Linked DNA regions of Homo sapiens. The protein of the gene in region 3 purifies or fractionates together with the protein of the main gene of each other region. This does not show direct contact. Each region holds a gene or a part of one and is shown on either strand. Other genes may lie near its edges.

The links.
Region 1: the proteins of MTG2 (region 3) and CPS1 purify together in Homo sapiens (affinity purification with mass spectrometry; one large-scale study listed by BioGRID and IntAct). This does not show direct contact.
Region 2: the proteins of MTG2 (region 3) and MCCC1 purify together in Homo sapiens (affinity purification with mass spectrometry; one large-scale study listed by BioGRID and IntAct). This does not show direct contact.
Region 4: the proteins of MTG2 (region 3) and PCCB purify together in Homo sapiens (affinity purification with mass spectrometry; one large-scale study listed by BioGRID and IntAct). This does not show direct contact.
Region 5: the proteins of MTG2 (region 3) and ACSF2 purify together in Homo sapiens (affinity purification with mass spectrometry; one large-scale study listed by BioGRID and IntAct). This does not show direct contact.
Region 6: the proteins of MTG2 (region 3) and INPP5K purify together in Homo sapiens (affinity purification with mass spectrometry; one large-scale study listed by BioGRID and IntAct). This does not show direct contact.
Region 7: the proteins of MTG2 (region 3) and SLX9 purify together in Homo sapiens (affinity purification with mass spectrometry; one large-scale study listed by BioGRID and IntAct). This does not show direct contact.

Annotation. Positions count from the first base shown.
Region 1 is NC_000002.12:210,605,099-210,608,598, reverse strand, and holds part of CPS1 (carbamoyl-phosphate synthase [ammonia], mitochondrial isoform b precursor), read right to left. Parts: intron 3,498-3,500; coding exon 3,353-3,497; intron 1,869-3,352; coding exon 1,658-1,868; intron 239-1,657; coding exon 40-238; intron 1-39. UniProt on the Homo sapiens protein: Involved in the urea cycle of ureotelic animals where the enzyme plays an important role in removing excess ammonia from the cell.
Region 2 is NC_000003.12:183,036,997-183,040,496, reverse strand, and holds part of MCCC1 (methylcrotonoyl-CoA carboxylase subunit alpha, mitochondrial isoform 1 precursor), read left to right. Parts: intron 1-1,361; coding exon 1,362-1,471; intron 1,472-3,062; coding exon 3,063-3,279; intron 3,280-3,500.
Region 3 is NC_000020.11:62,196,528-62,200,027, reverse strand, and holds part of MTG2 (mitochondrial ribosome-associated GTPase 2), read right to left. Parts: intron 2,576-3,500; exon of another isoform or gene 2,501-2,575; intron 2,177-2,500; coding exon 2,061-2,176; intron 1,395-2,060; coding exon 1,176-1,394; intron 910-1,175; coding exon 771-909; exon of another isoform or gene 745-770; intron 1-744. UniProt on the Homo sapiens protein: Plays a role in the regulation of the mitochondrial ribosome assembly and of translational activity. Displays GTPase activity. Involved in the ribosome maturation process.
Region 4 is NC_000003.12:136,298,840-136,302,339, forward strand, and holds part of PCCB (propionyl-CoA carboxylase beta chain, mitochondrial isoform 1 precursor), read left to right. Parts: intron 1-2,190; coding exon 2,191-2,272; intron 2,273-3,500. UniProt on the Homo sapiens protein: This is one of the 2 subunits of the biotin-dependent propionyl-CoA carboxylase (PCC), a mitochondrial enzyme involved in the catabolism of odd chain fatty acids, branched-chain amino acids isoleucine, threonine, methionine, and valine and other metabolites.
Region 5 is NC_000017.11:50,457,218-50,460,717, reverse strand, and holds part of ACSF2 (medium-chain acyl-CoA ligase ACSF2, mitochondrial isoform 2 precursor), read right to left. Parts: intron 42-3,500; coding exon 1-41. UniProt on the Homo sapiens protein: Acyl-CoA synthases catalyze the initial reaction in fatty acid metabolism, by forming a thioester with CoA. Has some preference toward medium-chain substrates. Plays a role in adipocyte differentiation.
Region 6 is NC_000017.11:1,496,845-1,499,612, reverse strand, and holds part of INPP5K (inositol polyphosphate 5-phosphatase K), read left to right. Parts: intron 1-1,490; coding exon 1,491-1,677; intron 1,678-2,768. UniProt on the Homo sapiens protein: Inositol 5-phosphatase which acts on inositol 1,4,5-trisphosphate, inositol 1,3,4,5-tetrakisphosphate, phosphatidylinositol 4,5-bisphosphate and phosphatidylinositol 3,4,5-trisphosphate.
Region 7 is NC_000021.9:44,943,029-44,946,528, forward strand, and holds part of SLX9 (ribosome biogenesis protein SLX9 homolog), read left to right. Parts: intron 1-655; coding exon 656-809; intron 810-3,500. UniProt on the Homo sapiens protein: May be involved in ribosome biogenesis.

The DNA.
Region 1 (3,500 bases), on a different chromosome or scaffold from region 3:
TGAGAACAAGAAGAAAAGCGTAATAAACCAAGGACTCACCTCTCCTACACTTTTCATAGAGCTACCAATTCGGCTAGATGTTCCATGAAAACGGTCAAGATCCCAGCGGGGAATCTTGGTGACCATGTAATCCAGGCTAGGTTCAAAACAGGCTGATGTCTTCCCGGATACGACGTTCTTAATTTCTGGAAGTGGGATTCCTAGGGCAATCTTTGCAGCAATGAATGCCAATGGGTAGCTATAAAAAGAAGACAAATTTATTTTTTTTTCTTCGAGCAATTATTGAAAACAGACCAAAACATAAATTGGTCTTTCTTAAAATTTCTGGTATTATTCTACTTCAGGGTATAAGACACTTGATTCTCTGTTCTGCATCAATATTTAGTAGCCACTTGCGGAATAATAGGAGTCATGATACAAAGTATAGAGGCACAGGTCACAGGAGAATTTACTCTCTGTGCACTACATGCATTGCTACAACGCTCAACCTTCACCTCTTCAACCCAAAATCGATAGCTTTATTGATAAATAAAGTTTAACCTTTATTTGTATTTAACCTCCACTAAGATGAGAATCTGCAAAATATTTTTTGAGAAAATATATACATATCTGTACATATACATATCTGTACCTAAGAATACAGTGGAGTTAGCTAGTACAAGAGAGTACATAATGGTCAGAAAATGTAGGCATTTCAAGTTTGGGTCCTTGCTCTGTCTCCAAATTATCTTTGAACTTTGGGCTCCTTACAAAACTAACACTTTGAGAACTTGACTATCTTCATCCAGAATGTCAGTTTGGGTTATTCTGTTTGAGAAAATAATTCATAGAACTATAGAATTAAAAATGAGTTCTTTAGTACAACTTCCACCTAACAAATGAGGAAACTGATAAAGACAATGAGTGATGTGCTCAAAATCACACGGTCAACAGAAGAACCAAGTGAGAATGCAGAATTGTGACTCCTGTACAGGGCAACATGCCTTTCACCACTCCACGCAGTGCTGTGGAACTACGTAAAAAAAATATAAAGAAGTAAATATTGTGTTCATTTAAATGCCATAATTTAAGTGTAAGGTGCTAAATATATTATTAGAAACCAAAGGTTTTGATTACCTTTCCCTCCAATCATGCCTGCTAGTGGCTGTTACATAGACAGCAGATGTATTTGTTTGGTTGTAACAGTTACTTGTGAAAAAATTCCGCACTGTTCAGTCTTGTGGAGTTTTGATAAAATAAAAGTAATGTGTATTGCATGCTTGAGTCAAGTGAGCTATATTTTCTGTCAACTATTTGCTATAGGGCTATACACCTGAAGAAAACAGCTGAAGACTAAAATTAAGGATTAATCTGCACTTTTAACAACATCTGCAAAGTGCAATTAGGAAGCAGATTTTTCACAGCCTGCTTTAGCCACCTAGATTTTGATTCGTTTAGATTAGCCTGCAAACAAAGCCAGCTAGCAATATAATTTACCTCAATCTGGCAACAAGCTCATTAATAATCATGTCCTCAGGGTGCTATAAATGATTTGGAGCTAACATACAGAAAAAGGGAACATAGTTTGTAAATGCAGTACAGTCTTCCACTATCTGTCAATTTTTCATTTCTATCTGAAAAGAATCTGCAAACCCATGGTCAATTATTCTGGTCTTACCCAGTGGCTTTTGAGGCCAGAGCAGAGCTTCGGGACAGTCTGGCATTCACTTCAATGATGCAGTATTCCATTGAGGTAGGATGAAGGGCAAACTGAATGTTGCATTCACCCACAATGCCCAAGTGGCGAACAACATTGATTGAAGTACGTCTCAACATCTGAAACTCGGCATTGGAGAGTGTCTGGGCAGGAGCCACAACAACTGAGTCACCTATATATCCAAGAAGCACTCATTACTTGGTGGCATATTGAAATAACCAACTTCAGCGACTTAACCATCTACTTGCACGATGCAAGACATAGAACAGTCTGAGGGTTTGTTGGGATATATATGTGATATCAGGTATTCCCCCAATTCCTGTTTTGCCCATATTACTCTGATACAGTACTTTTAGAAACCTCTCTAACCTTTCCCAAGTTCATCTATCTAGTAAGTAGCTATCAAGGCTTCAATCGTCTACTTACTAGATTGACTTCAACTTCCCTGCTCTTCATCTCAAATTATTTCTGAAGTTCTTCCTTTCATTGAATATTATCACTCAGACTGGCTCATCAGCTGGCTTTCTGTATCTCATCCCTTTCCATCTTCACTTCCCTCATCATAGCCCCTTATATCTGCAATCTTAGTCTCCATCCCTTCTGCCTTCAAACACGCTCAGATCTTCACTGCCTCCGGAAGTCTTCTCCCAACATTGCCAGACAACCATACAAAGCTTCTCTCTCATTCTTTACATGAATGAGCTTCTTGAAAGTTTGCCAATTCTGCTTACCACTTGATACCATGTAATTCCTTTTAATAGAGCTCACAGAACTGACTTTGCAATGAAATTGTTCTCTTGGACATCCAAAAGAGCCAAATTAAATAATCAGTCTTGGTCTTGCATAGCATTTGATACTGCCAAAAACAAAGCTCTTTTATAAAATAGTTCTTGCATTGGCTTAGTTGGTACAGTACTACCTGATTTTCCTCTTAACTCTTTATTCTCCCCTTCTATCTTCAACAGTAATACTTCCTCTTTCCCCTGCCCTATAAATCTAAATGTTTCCCAGAGTTCAAAGTTCAACCCTATTCTCTCCTCTTTCTATACCTATGTCCTTGAATACTTTGTCTATGCCTACAACTTCAATTTCCCCTTTTATGCCAACAGTTTCCAGTGTCTTTGTATCAACTTATTTATTTCTATTTTATTTCTTAAATTCCATCTCCACATTCTCAACTCCCTTTTTTGACAGCTCTGCTCACACCCCAAATTTAGCACTTTTAAATCCTAAGTTATCATCTTTGCCCTCTTATCTAACTAGTGTACTTTTCTGAAAAACTTATTTCTATTATTGTGCCTATTTTCTCATTTACTGGGTGATTACCAGCTCAGTCTGCTTTAAACTGTCTCAACCTCCCTTCTTATTTCTCAACACTAAGTTTTATGGATCTTATTTCTACCATATTGCTTACCTTTGGCTCTTCCTCAATTAACTCAGTGTAATATCCGCCTTACTTCACAGGGTTTGTGTGAAGATCAAATTAAATGTGAGAACATTTTCAATACTGTAAAATACTATGCTTGTCCAAAATGTTATCACTAGTCTGTCAACTAGAAATAGTAATTTAAAGGCAACAACTTTATAAAGACTGCCTTGGCCATCAAAGACATGAACTGAAAGCATTACTATAGTTCTTGAAGATACTTTGCCTACCTGTGTGAACACCCATGGCATCAACATTTTCCATGTTACAGACAGTGACACAATTGTCATCAGCATCTCGAACCACTTCATATTCTATTTCTTTCCAACCTGTCACTGACTTCTCCACCAGAATTTGGTTGGTCATAGCAAAGGCCTA
Region 2 (3,500 bases), on a different chromosome or scaffold from region 3:
TCAAGTGATCTGCCCACCTTGGCCTTTCAAGGTGCTGGGATTACAGGGGTGAGCCACCGTGCCTGGCCAGGACAAGTTTTTAAGAGGATGTCTGGAATGGATTTAGATAGGTAGATTTAAACAGCATAATGAAGAGTGAAGAAAAGAGAAAAAGGTATGTTTGAAGAATAGTAAGAAAATATATGACTGGAGACATGGGTTGAAGGCAAATCCTAGTGTCCTAAAAGCCAAAATGAGGATTTAGATCTTCTTAAAAATAAATTGGCAGCATTTTGAGAGCTCTGGATAAGCCACAGCAAGATTTGGTAGTTAGTAGACTTTTTAACTTAGCAAAGCATCTTAACTCTGCTTGCCCCACCGGTTCCTTCCTTTTTTTTTTTTTTTTTTTTTTTTTTTTTCTGAGATGGAGTTTCACTCTTGTTGCCCAGGCTGGAGTGCAATGGCACGATTTTGGCTCACTGCAACCTCCACTTCCCAGGTTCAAATGATTCTCCTTCCTCAGCCTCCTGAGTAGCTGGAATTACAGGCACCCGCCACCACGCCCGGCTAATTTTTTGTATTTTTAGTAGAGACAGGGTTTCACTATGTTGGCCAGGCTGGTCTTGAACTCCTGACTTTGTGATCTGCCCACCTCGGCCTCCCAAAGTCTTGGGAGTACAGGCGTGAGCCACCTGTAGGCACCTCTAATCTTATCAACGAGGACTCTGGGGTTCAAAGAGGTCAAGTGACCTGCCAAAATCCTGGAAAGACCCTGCAACAACGTTCTTTTCAACACACCACATCCTTTCTACTTGAACCATTTCTAACCAGTGGAATGTGCCCTGGTTCAGATTCTTGTTCTCTAGGACTGTAACCATCCCAGTGATGATAGCTGCCATTGGTTTATCAGTTTTGCCAGGTATGGCACTTGTCACTTTATTGTCACTCCTCCCAGCAACCCTGCAGGACAGAGGAATTATTAAACTTGCTTGACTAGTACGGAAACTGAAAGAGTGGAGGGGAGGGGAATGCTAAGGGCAGAAATGAGGGGAATGTGAGAGGGTGGAGGGAGATTGTGTTGACTTTGAAAATGAGAAGGGAAAAGAAGATTCAGAAGAAGATAGGACAGGGAAAGCCAGCTTGTGTGCCATTGAATCACCACGTTAGGGCCTGGTGCTGTTGGGTGGCCCACCTCGTTACACCTGGTGAGTTTTCAAAGCCCTCTGAACCTCAGGGTCCTCATGAATAAATTTGTGTTGTTATTTATCATGCAGGGGTTTATGAGGATTAAGCGTGAAATGTACATAACAAAATGTCTTGCTCGTTGTATTTTATTCCTTCGTGTTTTGACTTGAAGAGGTTACCGTGGTTTTCAATTTCAGGAGACGAAGTTTCCGTGCATTATGACCCCATGATTGCGAAGCTGGTCGTGTGGGCAGCAGATCGCCAGGCGGCATTGACAAAACTGAGGTACAGCCTTCGTCAGTACAATGTGAGTGATCTGAGACCGTGCCAGTGACCTTGATGTGTTTGGTCAGCACCAGAGGTCAGCCTTTGTCTTTGGCAGGGCCTTGGTCTCGTCAGCATATTTTCTATTTCCATCAATTGCCCAAACAAAATAGTTTCACATGGGAGAATTTTGCGTGGGCCAGAACAGGGTTTGAGGACTTCTTCATTTCAGTTACAAAAGAAAGATTGCAGAAGTAAAATTGTTAGTGTCAGTGCTATGCTTCGGTGAAATCCTATTCACTCTGTAGATAAGGCCAGCTATACATGGTACCTTCGTAGGTTTTTTATTTTTCCTAAGAGCTGTCCACAGTAGAAAATACTTAGGAAATAAAAGCAGATGTTTTCCTGAATGTTGTTTTCGCTACCCAGTATGCCTGCAGTCCAGTAGTTTTTCTCTAAAGTAAAATAATTATGTTCAGTTTCATCCCTTTAATAGAGTTTGTTATTTTTCTGTAGAACATTAATTTCCTTGGTGCAGAAAGTCCCATACCACATTGATTTGGCTCATAGAAGGATTTATTAACCCAGTTATTCAACTTGTTATTGTTAATAATTGATCAAAGCTCTGGTCTCTGTGGCTCCAACCACACTGGCCGCCTCACCGCTTCTGAGACTCACTCAGCATGGAGCCATGCATTCCTGTCCAATCTTCCAGAATGTTCTTCCCCCACATGATTGCAGGGCTCCCTCCTGACTACCCTGCTCTCCTGCTCTGAGCCCTTTCCCAGGCTGCCCCATTTAAAGTATGACCTTTTGTTATTCTTTATCCTCTTAGCCAGCCTTCATTTTCTTCATAGCATGTAACATTATATTCAATACCTGTTTACAGATATTGTTACTTGTTGCCCTAGAATGTAAGCAGAGACTGTGAAGGCAGGGACATCATATGTTTTGTTCCTCACTATGTCCCCAGTGCCTGGATCAGAGCCTGGCACTTAAGAGATGCTCAGGAAATGGCTGTTAAATGAATGAAGGAATGGATGAGTGAATGAATGAACCCAAAGCTCAGATAGCTGGTTTTACTTTTGATCCCATTTATTGGTGTATTTGGGTTAATTTTATACCTTTTAAAATTTTTGTATCGGTATATAAAATTTGGATTTTATTGTTGGAAAGAAGCTCTTTTGAGGGCATTTAATCCTATCCTCTCCCCAGTATAGCAATCCAGCTTGCTGTTTGCAGTCTTCCTATTCTGTGGAAGTGTTCTGAGCAGCAAGTCTTCGATACCTTGCAAATGAATTTCATTTATGTTTCTTAACATTTATTATGTTCCTAACCTGAGTCAAGTAAGTGCCTCGGTATTTCCAGCATCCTCTTTGTCATATTAAAATGTAATTTTTAGTGTCAAGTCCAGATGGATATAGTAATAGCGGATGGACATAGTGATAGTGAGATGGTTTTTTTGTGTTTTTTTTCCTGAGAATTGTCCTGTTGCCACATGGTACCTTAGTAGGTTTTTTATTTTTCCTAAGAGTTGTTCACAGTAGAAAATACTTAGATAAAAAGAGCAGATGGTTTTCTGAACATATTGTTTTCCCCACTCAGCAGGAACTGGGGGTTTATTCTCTTCCTAGATTGTTGGACTGCACACCAACATTGACTTCTTACTCAACCTGTCTGGCCACCCAGAGTTTGAAGCTGGGAACGTGCACACTGATTTCATCCCTCAACACCACAAACAGTTGTTGCTCAGTCGGAAGGCTGCAGCCAAAGAGTCTTTATGCCAGGCAGCCCTGGGTCTCATCCTCAAGGAGAAAGCCATGACCGACACTTTCACTCTTCAGGCACATGGTATGGAAGGCTTTTCTCTTTCCTCTGCTTGTCAAGTTTTGCAAATCATCATTGAACATGCTTTTCTTTCTGTATGGCACACTGACCTCTCTTTTCTCCTCTCAGTGACTGACACCATTCTTTTCAGATGTGTTTTTTAGTATGAAGGAAAGCTCTTCACTTACCATGGATGCACCCATAAACACTATTTAACCCATTAACTGGAGTGTAACTAATCACCT
Region 3 (3,500 bases):
CTGATGAAAATTGTTTAAATTAGGGCCAGGTGCAGTAGCTCACGCCTGTAATCCCAACACTTTGGGAGACCAAGGTGGGGCGGGGGGCAGATCACTTGAGATCAGGAGTTCGAGACCAGCCTGGCCAACATGGTGAAACCCCGTCTCTACTAAAAATACAAAAAAATTAACTGGGCGTGGTGGCGCACGCCTGTAATCCCAGCTACTTGGGAGGCTGAGGCAGGAGAATCACTTAAATATGGGAGGTGGAGGTTGCAGTGAGCTGAGATCGCACCACTGCACTCCAGCCAGGGTGACAGAGTGAGACTCCGTCTCAAAAAAAAAAAAAAAAAAAAGTTGTTTACATTAGGAAAAACAATGCTACTTTTTTTTTTTTTTTTTTGAGATGGAGTTTCGCTCTGTCGCCCAGGCTGGAGTGCAGTGGCATGATCTCGGCTCACTGCAAGCTTTGCCTTCTGGGTTCATGCCATTCTCCATCCTCAGCCTCCCAAGTAGCTGGGACTACAGGTGCCCGCCACCACACCCAGCTAATTTTTTTGTATTTTTAGTAGAGACGGGGTTTCACCATGTTAGCCAGGATGGTGTCGATCTCCTGACCTCGTGATCCGCCTGCCTCGGCCTCCCAAAGTGCTGGGGTTACAGGTGTGAGCCACCACGCCTGGCCAACAATGCTACATTTTAAACAGAAAGCTAAATTTAAGAGTTACATCATTACTTTTCTGAATTACATCATTTAAATCTAACCTTTGGGAGAATTCTGGAAGTTCTACCTGCTATTTGTAGGTGGCCTTCGTAGTGGACGATCCCGACGTGGGGCTTCAGGGTGGTGAACGGGTAGGAAGCCACGGCGGGTCTGGCGTTTGAAATGGCCCGGAGCAGTGAGGACTTCCCGGCGTTGGGGAATCCCACCTGGGGGAAAGAGGGAAGACGGTGGCACGGCCCGCGGCAGCACCTTTGTTAGCGCAGAGTCTGTAACTAACTGGGATTGGAGGGAGGATTTCAGGGCTGGGGGAGTCACAAGGGCTCATGCTCACGACCAAGTCAGCAGTGTACTGATGGGAAAAAGGTGAGTCGCAAAGCTGTTCTCTTCCAGGCCACTGGCAAATCCCCATTGAGAAAAGTGGATTTTCTAGAGCTGAGTGTGTGCAGATGCTGTTGGCAGTGGGGACACCTACCATTCCGGCGTGGGCCACCGTCTTGAGCTCCAGGTGGAGAACTCGCTGCTGTCCTGGCTGTCCAGGGGTACAGGTCACAGGGGCACGGTTGTTGTTGGCCAGGAAGAAGCGGTTGCCTTTCCCTCCTGCCCCGCCCAGCGCGGCAATGTACTCATCTCCCACGCAAGACAGGTCGGCCACAACTCTGCCTCCCTCCTTCACCAGCGTGCCCACGGGGACCTGGGGAACAGCAGGCACTCATCAGCTGAGCTCTACCAGCAGTGAGGAAAGGAGGCCTTAACCCATTCCTGAAGCAAGCGCTAAGGAAAGAAGACAAGAGCGGACTGTGCCCCGGGCAGCTGCCCGCCCCACTCACCTCTGCCAACAGCTCCGGAGCACAAGGAAAAGGTCCCAGTGCTCCAGGGCTTTCACGGGGCTGCGTACACACCCTTCTGACTGCACAAAGGGCTTTTTCAAATAGTGTTTCTAAAACGTTAGTGTGAACTGAAGCACCAGAAAAAACATCTAAGAGACGAGTGAATTCAGCTCGCGAAGGAGACGCAGGCCCGCTGGGTGCCAGTGGCCTCCCTCAGTCAGAGGTCGGCTCATGGGGTCAGAGACGGAGGAAGCGTCCGTGCCGTGGGCTCCCTCTTTTTAAAAGAGAATCGTTTCATGACTTTTTCACTAGACATGCACATGGTGTGAGACCCTGGTACAAATGCCCGTCTGGGTTTGCTTTGAGGGGTGGGGCTGCTTTCCCGCTGTCTGCCAGCCTCCGTTTCCATTGTGCTGTTTCCTAGCTGTGGGCATCAAGCCACAGGGGCCCCGTGGGTCACACGGTGGCCCCCAGGAGCTGGATGATCCAGAACAACGGGGACAGGGCCAGGTCCGGCAGTCTCGGCTCACCCGGATGTAGAGGACGGCGCCACTGCGCCCGAAGCAGTTTTTACTCCCTCCATCTTCTCCACTGAAACCCTGGTACCGCGACAGGACCGACGACAGGGACTTGACTTGCTGGTCAACTAAAGCAAGAACAAGAATCTCAGTCCCTTTGTGTTACGACAACCATGGCCTATTGCTGATGTGTCTGGGTCCAGTTTAAGAACCTTAAAAATAGGTATGGAAGCATGGAGTGAGGGTGCAGCAGAAGTTACAAAACCAGCAAAGTGATTTTTTAAAAATGAAATCCTTATTTTCCTTCAAAAAGTGCTATCATTTCTGAAAATTTTTAAATTTCTTATTTTTTACAGTAGCTGTATTCTATGCTTTTGTTGTGAAGGCTTCACTCCCAGCTCGCTATGCGTCTATGCTGAGTGTGAATATAACCAGCAGCCAGCGGCACCCACCGAACCCACCACACAGGCCTCGTGCTTTCACGCGACCGACATGTCAGCTTCCCTGACAGGAAACTCTCTGTGCTCCTGAAATTAAACAAACAAAACAAAACATGTTCAAAGTTGCTTTTTCTTTTTTTTTTTAGACAGAGTCTCGCTCTGTCAGCCAGGCAGGAGTGCAGTGGCATGATCTTGGCTCACTGCAACATCTGTGTCCTGGGCTCAAGCAATTCTCGTGCCTCAGCCTCCCAAATAGCTGGGATTACAGGCATCTGCCACCACGCCTGGCTAATTTTTCTATTTTTAGTAGAGATGGGGTTTCTCCATATTGGCCAGGCTGGTCTTGAACTCCTGACCTCAGGTGATCCACTCGCCTTGGCCTCCCAAAGTGCTGGAATTATAGGCATGAGCCACTGCGCCTGGCCTCAAAGTTGCTTTTTTGGGTGTGCTACTTAACTATGAATATCCATATAATTTTTTTTTTATGTTTTATGTTTTTATTTTTTTGAGACGGAGTTTCACTCTTGTTGCCGAGGCTAGAGTGCAATGGCACGATCTCAGCTCACCGCAACCTCTGCCTCCTGGATTCAAGCAATTCTCCTGCCTCAGCCTCCCTAGTAGCTGGGATTACAAGTGCCCACCACCACGCCCAGCTAATTTTTTTTGTATTTTTTGTAGAGACGGGGTTTCACCATGTTGGCCAGGCTGGTCTCGAACTCCTGACCTTAAGCGATCCACCCGCCTCGGTCTCCCAAAGTGCTGGGATTACAGGTGTGAGCCACCACGCCCGGCTGAATATCCATATAATTTATAAAAATGATATCCATACATCAGGGTTTTTTTTGTTTGTTTGTTTTGTTTTGTTTTTTTGAGATAGGGTCTTCCTCTGTTGGCCAGGCTGGAGTGCAGCAGCACAATCGGAGCTCACTGCAACCTCGACCTCCTGGGCTCAAGCCATCCTCCTGCTTCAGCCCCAAGTAGCTGGGACTATCAGTGTGTGCCACCACATCTG
Region 4 (3,500 bases), on a different chromosome or scaffold from region 3:
GGGAAGAGGTCATTTTCAGATGCTATCCTGTAGCTTAAACCTGGACTCCTTCCTGTGGGGCCTGGTCTGGGCCAGGGATGCTCTGAAGAGTTGTGTTGCCAGGGCCTCACTCTGTCTGCCTCTGCCCACTCCACAAGGGACATACCCAGTGGCCCACTGTGTGTAGTCATGGAGGGGAGAGTGGTCACAAGGTCCAGAGCTGTGGGTATAGCCTTTCTGAGTATACAGTTTGGAGTTCCTGAAGGGTTTAGGACATCACTTGAAGGTATTATGGCCCAGGAGCCCAGAAATGTCTGCATAGCCCGCTTTGGCCCAGCTATACCTCTTCTGCATATGATTCCAAGGGAGATATATATCCATATATATGTATACATATATATATGCATGTGTATATGCGTATATATGTATACGTGTATGTGTATATACATATGTTCATGTGTGCATATGTACGTATATGCATATATATGTATACATACATGTATACATATTTGTGCATACACACATACACATGCATACATATGCATGCATAGGTATATATGCATATGTATGTATATGTATGCTTATGTATATGCATATGTATGTATATGTATGCTTATGTATATATGCATATGTATGCATGTGTATGTATAGGTATGCATGTGTATGTATGTATATGCATGTGTATGTATAGGTATGCATGTGTATGTATGTATATGCATGTGTATAGGTATGCATGTGTATGTATGTATATGCATGTGTATGTATAGGTATGCATGTGTATGTATGTATATGCATGTGTATGTATAGGTATGCATGTGTATGTATGTATATGCATGTGTATGTATAGGTATGCATGTGTATGTATGTATATGCATGTGTATGTATAGGTATGCATGTGTATGTATGTATATGCATGTGTATGTATAGGTATGCATGTGTGTGTATGTATAGGTATGCATGTGTATGTATGTATATGCATGTGTATGTATAGGTATGCATGTGTATGTATGTATATGCATGTGTATGTATATGCATGCATATGTATGTATATGCATGCATGTGTATGTACGTATATGCGTACATATGTATGCATGTATATGTATGCATATGTATATGTATACGCATATGCATACATATATACATGTATGCATGTATACACACATGCATGTGTATATATGCATACCCACACATATGCATGTGTACACGCCCACACATGCATATATGCATGCCCACACACATGCATATCAACACATATATGCATATACGCATATCTACACATATACATACATGCATATCTACACGTGTATATATGTATATCTACACATGTGTTCACATACATATATACACATATGTATATGTGTATATATGTATGACAAGTAAAAAGGGAGGACTTTATTAGCAGATGGGGCTACCCTTAGTTTTCTTTCCAGCGTAGAGCTTTTTGCGAAGTTGGGCTTGATGGACACATGGCCTGACCCAAGGCCAAACCTCAGCCCAGGAGTACGTCTCAGGGTCACTGTAGCCCCTGGCTGCCCACACTGGGAAGGAGGGAATGAAAGCCTATTGGAGAGAAGAGGTTGGAGAGGGGCAAGTTGCTGGGTCCTCCTGTAGAGTGGGAGTGGGCTCTGGCTTAGTTTTTCTGCTGAGACACTTGGATGCAGGAGGAAGGAGAGAGTCCATGAGCCTGCATGTGACAGGTTCTGTGGTGATTTTGCCCAGAGGGCCTGCAGTTTTGCTTTTTGAAGGAGCTTTAGCAGATTAACCTAACAGGGAATGTGAACCCACAGTGGTTTATGCAGAGCTCTGCCTTTGCATTTCCAAGTCCTTGTTCTTTTAATGTTCCAGGAAGTTGGGCTGGGCTCTCCCAGGGCTGTGTCTTGTTCACTATAATGTCCTTCAGTGCCCTACACGGTACCTAGAATGTAGGAGGTATTCAGAGAAGATAAATGAAAGAATAACGTTTAGAGGAATAAACTCATTTTTTCCTCTAAAAGAGAACCAGAAGATCTTTTGGATTGATACTTGTCCCAGGTTCAGTTAATATGGTGGTTAAAAAGGAATGACTCTTTGGTGACTGCTTTGTAAGCCCAGCAGGGACAGAACTGGCCCAGTCCCTATGACGTGTCACCCCATTTCCTTTCCCACCCCATTCCCACAAAAGGTAACTGGCTCTTCCTATGTTGACTATACCTGCCTTTTTTCTGCCTAAAGTGACCGTCTGGTTCCTGAGCTTGACACAATTGTCCCTTTGGAATCAACCAAAGCCTACAACATGGTGGACATCATACACTCTGTAAGTGCCACATCTGTTTGTCTTGCCTGTCCTAGTCAGCCACATTCATGGGCATTGTGCTTCGGCTTAGTGAGGAAGCACTGGACCACTTGGCCTCCATGTCAGACAGCACAGGTCGGGAATAGGGTGGGCACAGGACCAGTGGCCACTGAGTAGTGTGTTCTGGAAAGACCTAGTGGCTATAGATACCCTAGTGGCACAGATGGACTTGAGGGCTGGAGATAGGAGTAGTAAGGGCCAGCAGAGCTCAGGAGTCTTTAGAAGGCCCTCTGAGGATCATAAATTAGGGGCCATGTCCACAGAGTCTAGAGTGAGGCCAGAGTGATCATTGTTAAGTATCATTGGGGCCCTCTGCTCAGAGGGGGTTTTGTCTTTATAGAGAAGAGAGTACACAGGGCATCCTAGAAGGTTGGACTGTGTGTGTGGAGGTCCGTGGGAGACAGGAGCCATTTGTACCTTTTTTTGGTACAGCAGATTCCTGGGTCATTAAGTAAAGGGGACAGTGTTGGGCAAACTGAAGGCATCTGTAGATGGCCAATGCCTTCCTTAAGGGTACACTGTGCTCTCGGTAGTCCTTGTGCAACACATCGTGATGGCTCTCTGGTAACTCTAGAAGTCAGATTCTCCCTCTTCCCTAGGGTTTGCTGTTTTCTGTTATTGTTTTTGTCTTTTTTATTCTTGTAGTCTCTTCCTGCACCAAGGATTAGCCTGAGATGTAACCTTAAGGTCTTCCTTAGGTCTTTTCTGAGCCTTTGCAGGGGCACGTGCAATCACTTTCTAATTTTCCCTGCATATGCAGTTGTTTTTGAGTGTCCTAGTTGTTAACGTCTGGCTCCCAAAAGTAGAAAAAGAGAAAAAAAATGAAGATGGTAAAAAGATGTCAGCCCTTTAAATTCCTTGGAAGTCAGTTCAGCCCAAAGCAGGAGAGCCTCGCAACAGTGTGGGGAGTTGTAGCAACAGTGACCACCCATCTCTTTGCACCTCTGTGATCAGAAGCAGCAGTCAGCAAGCACAGATTCTCAATATTTGGAGGACAGGGTCCTTTTATGCCCACCCCGGCTCCTGCAAGCTGTGTGCAAACTGCTGCAGGAACACTTGCGGAAATATCTGTCATGGAGCTGGGGTGGGGGATGGGTAGCTGCTACTATGCTAAGAGCTGAAATTAACTCCAATTTTCAGTCCAATCCTTCCCCTGGAAGTTGCAGTCTTTCAACAGACGCCAGAGTCA
Region 5 (3,500 bases), on a different chromosome or scaffold from region 3:
CTCCGATGGGCGTGGAGACCATGCGATCCACCTCTCTGGAACTGTAGGGAGAGGAGCTATGGGTTTGACTGTCCCAGATCAGTCTCCCTGGAACCAAGGGCATGGCACACCCAGCCAAGCCAGGGGGTAGGCTGCTGACAATGTGTTAGAGACCACTAGGTTTCCTCCAGATCTTCTTGTAAGCCTAAAATCCCCCAGACCCTTTTCCCAACCTCAAGCCTAATCCCAAGGCAGCAGGACAGGGACAAGGTTACACCAAGCTGGAGCAAAGGGCCCTCCTTCGCCTTCCCGGGAAAGGTGAGATGCCATAGTGAAGCCTGGGAGAGCCTGCCTGTGCAGACAGACAGATCTTACAAAGCAGGACCATGCCTTCACCCCTAGCCCCTGCCTCCTGGAGAATAAACAGGTCACTGGGGTCCTTCCTGAGGAACCAGGGAAGCGTGCCTGGACCCTGGGCTTGAATCCAAGGTCTTAGGATTTTAGACTCCTTGGTGGGCCAGTTTTTCTCCTGAGGGCCTGAAAGCCAAAGACAGAATAGGAAAGGGATAAAGGAGAGGGCAGATGGAGGCCCTAAGAGAGGCAGCTGGGCGGCCCCTGTTATTCCACAGGCCTGTAGGTGTTCAGTGCCAGGTGCTAAAGATCCTGGGCACCTGCAGATGAAGAAGAAAGCCCCTATATGCCAAATGGCACCTGGGCTCCAGCTCCCACTCTCAGATGATGTCACAAGGCAGGCAGGCAGTTTCTGTCTCCAGGGAATTAAGAAGCTGGCTGAAAGCAGCCAGTTAAGGCAAAGGGGCCAGATGTCAGATAAGCAAGGGGCACCAAGAGCCTGAGAGTACTGAGCTGGGGATGTTGAGTGGAGGAAGCAGCCAGCTCGGGACCTGGCTCGGGTTCTAGTCTGGGGCCGGGACTCTTCACCTCTCACATGTGGCTACCTATCCATTTCAGTGCACAGGTGGAAACAGGTCTGGGTAGAGGCCTGGGCAGTCACGGGAGTAGTAACCTACTCCCCAGTTTTCTCCATCGGCCTTTCAGGAACTACCCATCTCCTCCCAGCCCTGCCAGGTAAGAGACAACCCCTAAGTAAGGGCACGTCAAGCTGGAGGAGAACCTGCACTTCCATTACTGCTCCACTTAACTTTCCCCACCTTTTATTAACTGTGGCACCTGAGCCAGGCATGGTGGCTCACACCTGTAAAGTCTTGCCAGCACTTTGGGAGGCTGCAGCAGGAGGATCGCTTGAGCCCAGGAGTTCGAGATCAGCCTGGGCAATATAGGGAAACCCTGTCTCTATGAAACATTTTAAACAATTAACCAGGTATGGTGGCGCATGCCTGTAGTCCCAGCTACTCCGGAGGTTGAAGGGGGAGGATCACTCGAGCCTGGGAGGCAGAGGTTGCAGTGAGTCATGGTTGCACCACTGCACTTGAGCCTGGGTGACAGAGAGAGGCCCTGTCTCAAACAACAAACCAATAAAACCCAGTGGGACCTGGCAAGTTATCTGTTTACTCTTTGGCTCGAAGGGGATGAAGAGACTGCCTTGCCTATTCCATAGCAGGGCCATGACGTTCAAGCGTGAACAGGCCTGCAAAGGTGCTTTGCGAATGGTGAAGTGCTCTGTAGTCGACAGGCATTTTACCATCCATTCATGGCATTTATCGACCATGCTTTCGACACACATTCAGTGAGCACCCGTATGTGCCAAGTACTATGCTAGGACTAGAGATAGAACAAGCCACAGTCCTTCTTCTAAGAAGCTCCCTGTCTCTGGGGAAATTAGACATATTAGCTCTTCGTGGGTGGGAACAGCCTAGAAAATCAGGAAATGGGAGCCATGAGGCAGACTGTGGGGGGAATCCCAGCCCATCTGAGGCCCATTGTCTGTCCCCTCAAAGCTGGGTTAAGGCAGCCTCTCTTAGACCTGGGCCCTGGGGCCACCCATACTATGGCCTCCTCAGCCCTACGGAGTACTTAGCCAACATTTATTCCTCCAACAAATATTTAGGAAACACCCACCACAGAGAGGGCCCAATGGTAAAAAATGAACAAAGCCAAATACAGTCCCTGTCCTTGCAGAGATAAGGGTCTGGTGGGAAAGACAGGAGTGCAGTCAACCTTGGTAATGATGAATGTATGTTTAGAAAGCTGAGATAAGGAAGGGGCCGTGGTCCTAGGAGCACCTGTAAGACGGAATCTGGGATCACCTGGGGCTCCAAGGAAAACTCCCTTAAGAAATTTATGCCTAAGCTGACAGCTGAAGGGTGAGGAAGTATTAATCATCAGAGAAGGGAGAGGAGGGCTTTTCCAGCAGAGGAGAGCTTGTCTCTGTGGCTGGGGCATGGAAAATGAAAGGGAGTGCTGTGAGAACGGGAGGGTGACTGGAACTTGAACCCAGCTGAAACCAAAGGGTCCAGAGCAGAGGACATTGGGCCTGGAAGAATGAGGAGAGCCCCCAAACTCCAGGTTCTGGGGTTGGGGTTTTCTCCACCCATGGGCCCAAGTGGACCCACATCATTTATGAAGTGAAGAGGGATGGATGGATGTTGGAACCAGGATCTGTGTTTATGGGCTGATCCCTCCCTTGTCCCTCCAGGGACATCAGAAGGAACCTTCTCAACCAGTGTCACTCCCTCCTCCAAGTGACAGTTTTTCAAGATGTGGTCCATGGAGAGCTGCTTCGGAATCATCTCAGGATCTCACAAAGAATGCAAATTCCTGGGCCCCTGCAATGCCTACTCATTGCAGAGCTTCTGGGGAGTGGACCGGGAGAATCTGAATTTTTAACAGAATCCCATGTGATTCTGATGTGGGACTGGGTGAGGATTCTATGAATCACACTTTGACAACCACTCTCTTGGCCATCTAAGCCACCCCAACCGCCTTTGACTCATCTATTCAAGCAAGCTTTAGTGAGCACCTACTATGTGCCAGCCCTGTGCCAGGTACTAGGGATACAGGGATGGATAAGACACTGCTCCCAGCCCTCTAAGTAGCCATAGTGTGGTAGGAAGAGAAATGTATGTAAACAAATCATTTCAACTCTCGGATTAAGGCTATTCGGTAAAGAAGAGAACCAAAAGAAGATAACCTACTCTCTCCTAGGGGTACATGGGACAGAAGTGGGGTTTCTTTCCCCACACTCCTCACATCTCAACTACCAACCTCAGCTCCTCCTGCTTCTCCCCCTTGTAATTTCATTCAATTCCATATGTCTATGAAATCTGTGGGCCCTCAGGGTCTACTGAGATCTGCCAAGGTCTAGAGTGGAAAACTGGTCCTCTTCCCATCCCACTAGTGATGAAGGAAGATGCTGCATGTCCCTCCAAACCTCCACACCCTCCTGGCCAGAGATGGCCACCAATGGTGTGGTCCTCAGCCTAGGGGGCCCTGGGAGCTTCTACCTGGATTCCACCAGGGACTGCCTAGCCCATATCCAATGATGGCCTGGAAGGTCTGGAAGCCAGAGCACATCTTCTCCTATGGGAACAGAATTTGCTCTG
Region 6 (2,768 bases), on a different chromosome or scaffold from region 3:
CAGTTACCTAGAGGAGGAATGCATTTTGTCTCCGGAGCGTATTACCTTTTCCAAACCCCTCAGGGAAACTGGCAAGTGAAGAACAGGTGGGAGGTCTCTCAGTCGACTCCTTTTTTTTTGGAGATAGAGTCTTGCTCTGTCGCCCAGGCTAGAGTGCCGTGGTATGATCTCAGCTCACTGCAACCTCCGCCTGCCAGCTTCAAGCAATTATCTTGCCTCAGCCTCCCGAGTAGCTGGGATTACAGGCACCTGCCACCATGCCTGGCTAATGTTTGTACTTTTAGTAGAGAGTCAGGATGGTCTCGATCTCCTGACCTCATGATCCACCCACCCTGGCCTCCCAAAGTGCTTGGATTACAGGCGTGAGCACCGCGCGCGGCCTCTCAGTCGACTCTTGAGAGGAAATCATAAAGGCCAGTGTGCATGGCGAGCTCGTTTTGCACCAAGCACTGTGCTAAACATTTTATGTACTTTATCTCATTGACTCATCCTAGCAACCCTTCATGGTAACTACTGTTATTCCCTCCACTGGCAGGCGAGGAAGTTGAGGCCTGAGAGAGGTTAGTTTAGTTTGGTGGTTAAGAGCACATGCTCTGTGGTCATGCTGGCTGGCCCTGAATCCTGGCTCCACCACTTAGTACCTTGTGACTTTGGGAAAGGTGCTTCCCCTCTAAGCTAAGTCTCAGTTTCTCCACCTGTAAAGAGAGCATGATACACCCAGGCACAGTGGTCCATGCCTTCTAATCCCAACACTTTGGGAAGCTGAGATGGGAAGATCCTTTGAGGCCAGCAGTTCAAAACTAGGCTGGGAAACATACTGTCTTTACAAAAAAATGTTTAAAAATTAGCCAGGCATAGTGCCACGCACTTACCGTCCCAGCCACTCAGGAGGCTGAGGTGGGATCGCCTGAGCCCAGTAGTTTGAGGCTACAGTAAGCTGTGATGTCACCACTGCACTCCAGCCTGCATGACAGAGCAAGACCCTGTCTCTTTAAAAAAATAAAATTAAATTTAAAAAAAGGTGTGGTAACAGTACTGATCACAGGCATCCTCTGGTAAGCATTTCCTAAATGCTTCCCTTCCCTTTCCTGAGGCATACTTCTAGTATGCAGGGCAGCCAAATACAAGCTCAGGTGTGTCCAGCCTCAGAATCTCAAACCTCAGCTGCTTTGATCCACTGCTGCTTTTGCTCAAGAAAGAAGCAAAGCTTTGAAATGGAATGTTTCTGAGTCACAATTTGATCCATAAAAACATGAGCTAGACATACAGAGGGTCCTGGCTAAGTCTGACAAGTGCTGGCATACTTTGGATTCTGTTAGGCACCTTCCTGCCTGCTGCCTTGCTCCCTCCGGCTCTGGCCCCGGGGGTCTGTGGCTGCCAGTAGTTGCTGGAGTTAGGGGCTCCAGCAAGCTCATGTGGGCTCATTTCTGCTCTTAGCCAACCCTTTCTTCTTTCCCCATTCTTCCTCTTTATGCCCCCTGCCCCTGCAGTGAGAAAAAACGCAAGCCTGCATGGACCGATCGCATCCTGTGGAGGCTGAAGCGGCAGCCCTGTGCTGGCCCCGACACTCCCATACCGCCGGCGTCACACTTCTCCTTGTCTCTGAGGGGCTACAGCAGCCACATGACGTACGGCATCAGCGACCACAAGCCTGTCTCCGGCACGTTCGACTTGGAGGTGAACTTCTGGGCTGCCTGATACTTGCCAGAGGAATAGCTATGCTGGCCACATCCCCAAGCCCTCCATCCCTGGATTCGAATGTCAGCCAGTCCCCCAGGGGAGACCTGTGGAGGCCATGATTGCCTTTCCTGCCAGGTCGGATATCCCAGCTCCTCTTAGGAGCCGTTGATGGCTCTGTCTGTCAAAACCGTGTTCAAACCCTTTGTGAAAAGGTTTCCATTTCCTTTGGGTATTCTCCCTTGGGGCTAATGAGTTCCATTAGGCTTATTACCCAATGTGAGAAGTAGGACTTCTTTTATTTGTCCTAAATCTATCTGGATCAAGTTGCAACGGGCGCTCCCTCCATCCCTGCGTCCTTGTATCTTGCTATCTGAATGACCAAGGTGGTGTTGGCCTCCTTCAGGCTGCTGCCCCTCAGCCTTCACGTTTTCATACAGGTTTACTGGCGTGTGTGTGTGTGTGTTAGGGTCTCGTTCTGCCGCCCAGGCTGGAGTGCAGTGGCGGTATCATAGCTCACTGAAGCCTCCACCTCCTGGGCTCAAGTGATTGATCCTTCCACCTCAGCCTCCCTAGTAGCGGGACTACAGGTGCACGCCACCACGCCTGGCTGTTATGTATTTTTTGTAGACACAGGGTTTCACTATGTTGCCCAGGCTAGTCTCGAACTCCTGGGCTCAAGTGATCCTCCCAAACTGTTGGGATTATGGGTGTGAGCCACCGTGCCTGGCCCCCGCTGGTATCTGCGTTGTGTTCTTGCACGTTCACAGCTGTTCTCACCAGAGCATCCCCCCATGTGGGGCTTTGGGTCAGATAAGGCGGGAGGCCTGAGAGCAGCTGCCTGGCCGCCTCCTTAAGCCTCTCAGCCGTGCCTCTGCTCTCCGCCATTCCTACCCCCCAGCGCTGGGCCCCATGGGATTCCGACAGGGCCAGCCACCCGCCGACTGGTGTTCGGCCCTCTTTCCTGATGGCCAGCCAAGGTCCGTTGGAGCAGCCCAGTGGAGTTCCATGCCCACCCCCTCTGGGTGCCCCACCTTCCCCACTATGTTGGAAGGGCACAGTGAGGAACACTTGGCCTCAGAGGAGGGAAT
Region 7 (3,500 bases), on a different chromosome or scaffold from region 3:
TCTGACCCCCTTCAGAAACCTCTGTTGAGGTCGATGCTGCCTTCCCTGCCAAGGTCAGTGAGGCTTGCACATGAATGGGCTGGGCAGCACGGGGGTCAGGGACGGGGGGGTTCTGTCTCCTCACGGTTTGGTCGGCAGCTGACTTGGAGGAACTGAAATCTTCATGCAGGGATGAGTGTGGCTCAGAACCAGACCTGGCAGAGAGGCTGCTGAGATGACTAGTTCTGATGGGATGTGGTCAGTCTGAGCTGAAAGAGCTGTCAGGCTGGGAGCTGCCTATCCTTCATCTGCTCAGCTGCAGGTTTCTTCTGTGACACAGGAGAATGTTGTAGAAAGAGTAAGACGAAATGGTTGGGAAGGAAATTTGGTTCTTGAGATACTGGTCCTGACTCCTGAAGAACCAGGAGTGAAGCCCGTCTGGTGATTGAAGGCAGGGAGCAGGTGGGCCTGGGCGCTGCGGGTCTGCCCTGGAGCTCTGGAACCGGAGGCTTCTGCTCTGGGAGGTGAGGGTTGTTTCCCCCAGGTCCTCCCGGGCAGAGAAGCTGGGGAATCCAGGTTCTTGTCTTGCATCTTCTCCTCACCTTTAACGTCCCTCTGAAACCACAGAGCAAGTCTCACACCTCTTCTTTTCGTCCGTTTTTGTTGGGGACATTAGGACTGGGCGTTCATCAACACCAACATCTTTGCCAGGACCAAGATAGACCCCAGCGCCTTGGTGCAGAAGCTGGAGCTGGACGTGAGGAGTGTCACTTCCGTCAGGAGAGGTGAGGCAGGCTCGAGTGCACGGAGCGTCCCTTCCATCAGGAGAGGTGAGGCAGGCTCGACGGGTTACCATGCTGATACCCAGCAGGTCTGGGATTGTTCCCTCAGGCACCCGAGGTCTCAGCAGCTTTCCAGCTAACCTGTACCTGACAATGTCCTTGAGCAAGGGATGCCCCTGGCTGTTTCTTGGGGCGATTCCCCAGAGTAGATTACAGCTGTGGTTTTGCCCCTGGGCTGCATCATGTCTCCGCAGCTCTGCAAGAACTGCTCTGCGTCCTGGCAGCCACGCTGAAGCCACAGGAACTTGGGCTTTGGTGACCAACAGGGTTTGAACTGTTTTCTCCGTGTGTGCTGATTCTTTCGGTCTGTCTGTATGTTTGGGGCAGTTTTGATCCTTTTCTTAAACAAGTGCTTTATGTGTTGCAGAGGTTAGCTGCTTATCATTTTGTACAAATAACTCTTGAGGGTTTAGATCCTGAAGCCGAAGCAGGGTCCTCTCAGTTTCATCAGATCCATGCGCAGCCCTTCCCGTCTCCTGGTTGTGCTCCTTGCAGCCCTGCAGCACACACGTCAGCCTGGCCAGTGAGAGGGTCTGGGAACTCCCACTCACTCCAGTGTCCGGAGCTTAGCAGGGAACGCCGTCCCCCTGCACCTCCTACTGAGTCTGAGGTGTTTTAGAGAGTTCCCGGCCACCATGGTCAATGCTGGGAGTGTTGACTTTCTGGCTGGAGGATGGTGAGCAGTGTCACTTCCCAGGGATAAATCCAGGAAAAAGCTTCCTTCACTCATCTAAGGGAGTCGGTGAGGAGCACAAGGAATACTTTTTACATCTTGACAGCCTTGGGAAGTCATAGGTTGGGGAGGGAGAGGGCCTGGCTGTGGGGGCAGAGCTCAGGGCACCAGTGTGACAGTGAAGACTGCATGTGGCTTCACAGTCGGCAGAGCTGGGAGCGCCAGGACAGGGCAGGAGCCGGGTCTGGGGCCTGTAGATGGCCCGTTAAGATCGTGGGCTCTGGGCCTCTGCCCCTCACCGCCTGGTAGCCTCTGGCTGGACACTTGATCGCTCTGGGCCTGGGCTTTGCATCTGTCAAAGGAGGTAACAGTATTTATCTCCTAAGTTCTGGCAGTTTTGAGTTTGAGATGAGGTAGTTGGTGTGAAACGTTTAAAACAGTGCAGTGAAGGCTGTGGAGGCGCCCGCTCTGCATCTGTTGAACGAGGCTGGTCTGGTGGGAAGGCTGGGGACGAGTGGGTTTTGCAGCTGCCCAGAGGTGGGCCAGCCCTAATTCCTTGGGCACAAGTCATGTGATCACGGGTGCTCTGTGACCCTTAGCTCCATTGTCCACAAAGCGGCGACAGACATAGCTCATAGATGCTAAGGGCCTCACTGTGCCTCTAGAAAGATCCAGGTACATTTAACCAGTGCAGGTTTCCTGCTCCTTCTCTCCAAGGAGGACCTGGTGAGGTGACCAGGCCAGGTAACTCCAGAGAGAAGCTGTGCCTTCCAGCCAGGAACGCTTGATGTGGGTGGTCCGCCCGAGCTGTGTCCCTGGTTGCTGACAAGGCCCTTAAGGCTGTCCCCAAGGGGATGGGAGTCGTGGGTCTCAGTGACCTGGCTCTGGCCTGAGCTTCTCAGAGCTCTTTCACACAGCAGCCTCTTTCCTCTGCCTTTTCTTGGCCCTCTCCCTTCAAGCCCCTGTGGCTCATCTGGTCCCCAAGGTCACCTGCTGCACTGACTGTCACGTCCCCTCTTCCCCTCCTAATTTAGGGAGACGTCACGCTCACGACCCGTCTTGCCTACCAGGGAAACTCCTCTTTAGCAACATCTGGCCTCGCAGCGTTCTTGGGCTGAGGTCGTGCCCAGCAGCCCTGTGGCCTCTCCTTTGAGCCATGCTGGATCTTTGTTTTTGTTTGTTTGTTTTTTGTTTGTTTGTTTGTTTGGAGACAGAGTCTTGCTCTGTCGCCAGGGTGGAGTGCAGTGGCTTGATCTTGGCTCACTGCAACCTCCGCCTCCTGGGTTCAAGTGATTCCCCTGCCTCAGCCTCCTGAGTAGCGGGGACGGGACAACAGGCACATGCCACCACGCCCAGCTAACGCCACCACGCCCGGCTAATTTTTGTATTTTTAGTAGAGATGGGGTTTCACCCCGTTGGCCGGGATGGTCTCGATCTCTTGACCTCAGAGATCTGCCTGTCTTGGCCTCTCAAAGTGCTGGGATTACAGGTGTGAGCCACCACGCCCGGCCTGGTCTTTGTTTTTCGTAAGCTCAAACCTCATTAATTTAGAGTAACTGGTGGGAGAGGGTAGAAGCTTGAACTTTACAATGTCAAAGATTGATTTCAAATTTCAGAACCATGTTATCAGAGTAGAGCATAGAAGTGTTTTCTTGAAATAATTGAACAATAAGTTGAAAAAATTTGAAGATTCTATTGTTTGTGAGTCTGTTGGGTAATTAATTTTTTTCTTAATTCACATACCCTTATTTGTGCATAAAAATCTTAAAGCTTGTGCTGACGGGACTGTAGCGTGGCCCGTTCTGGCGCTCCCCAGCCCTGAGCTCGTGCTGACAGTAGCGTGGCCCGTTCTGGCGCTTCCTGCTTGTGTGCAGGTGTTTCCCATAGCCCGCCTTGAGGGGCACGAGGATGGGAATTATTTGAGCCGTGCGGCAGGGTCAGGGTTTTGGGTGTTGGGGAGGAGCCTTGGCCTGGGGAGGCACTTAGTGCTTCTGGCCAGGAGCCGG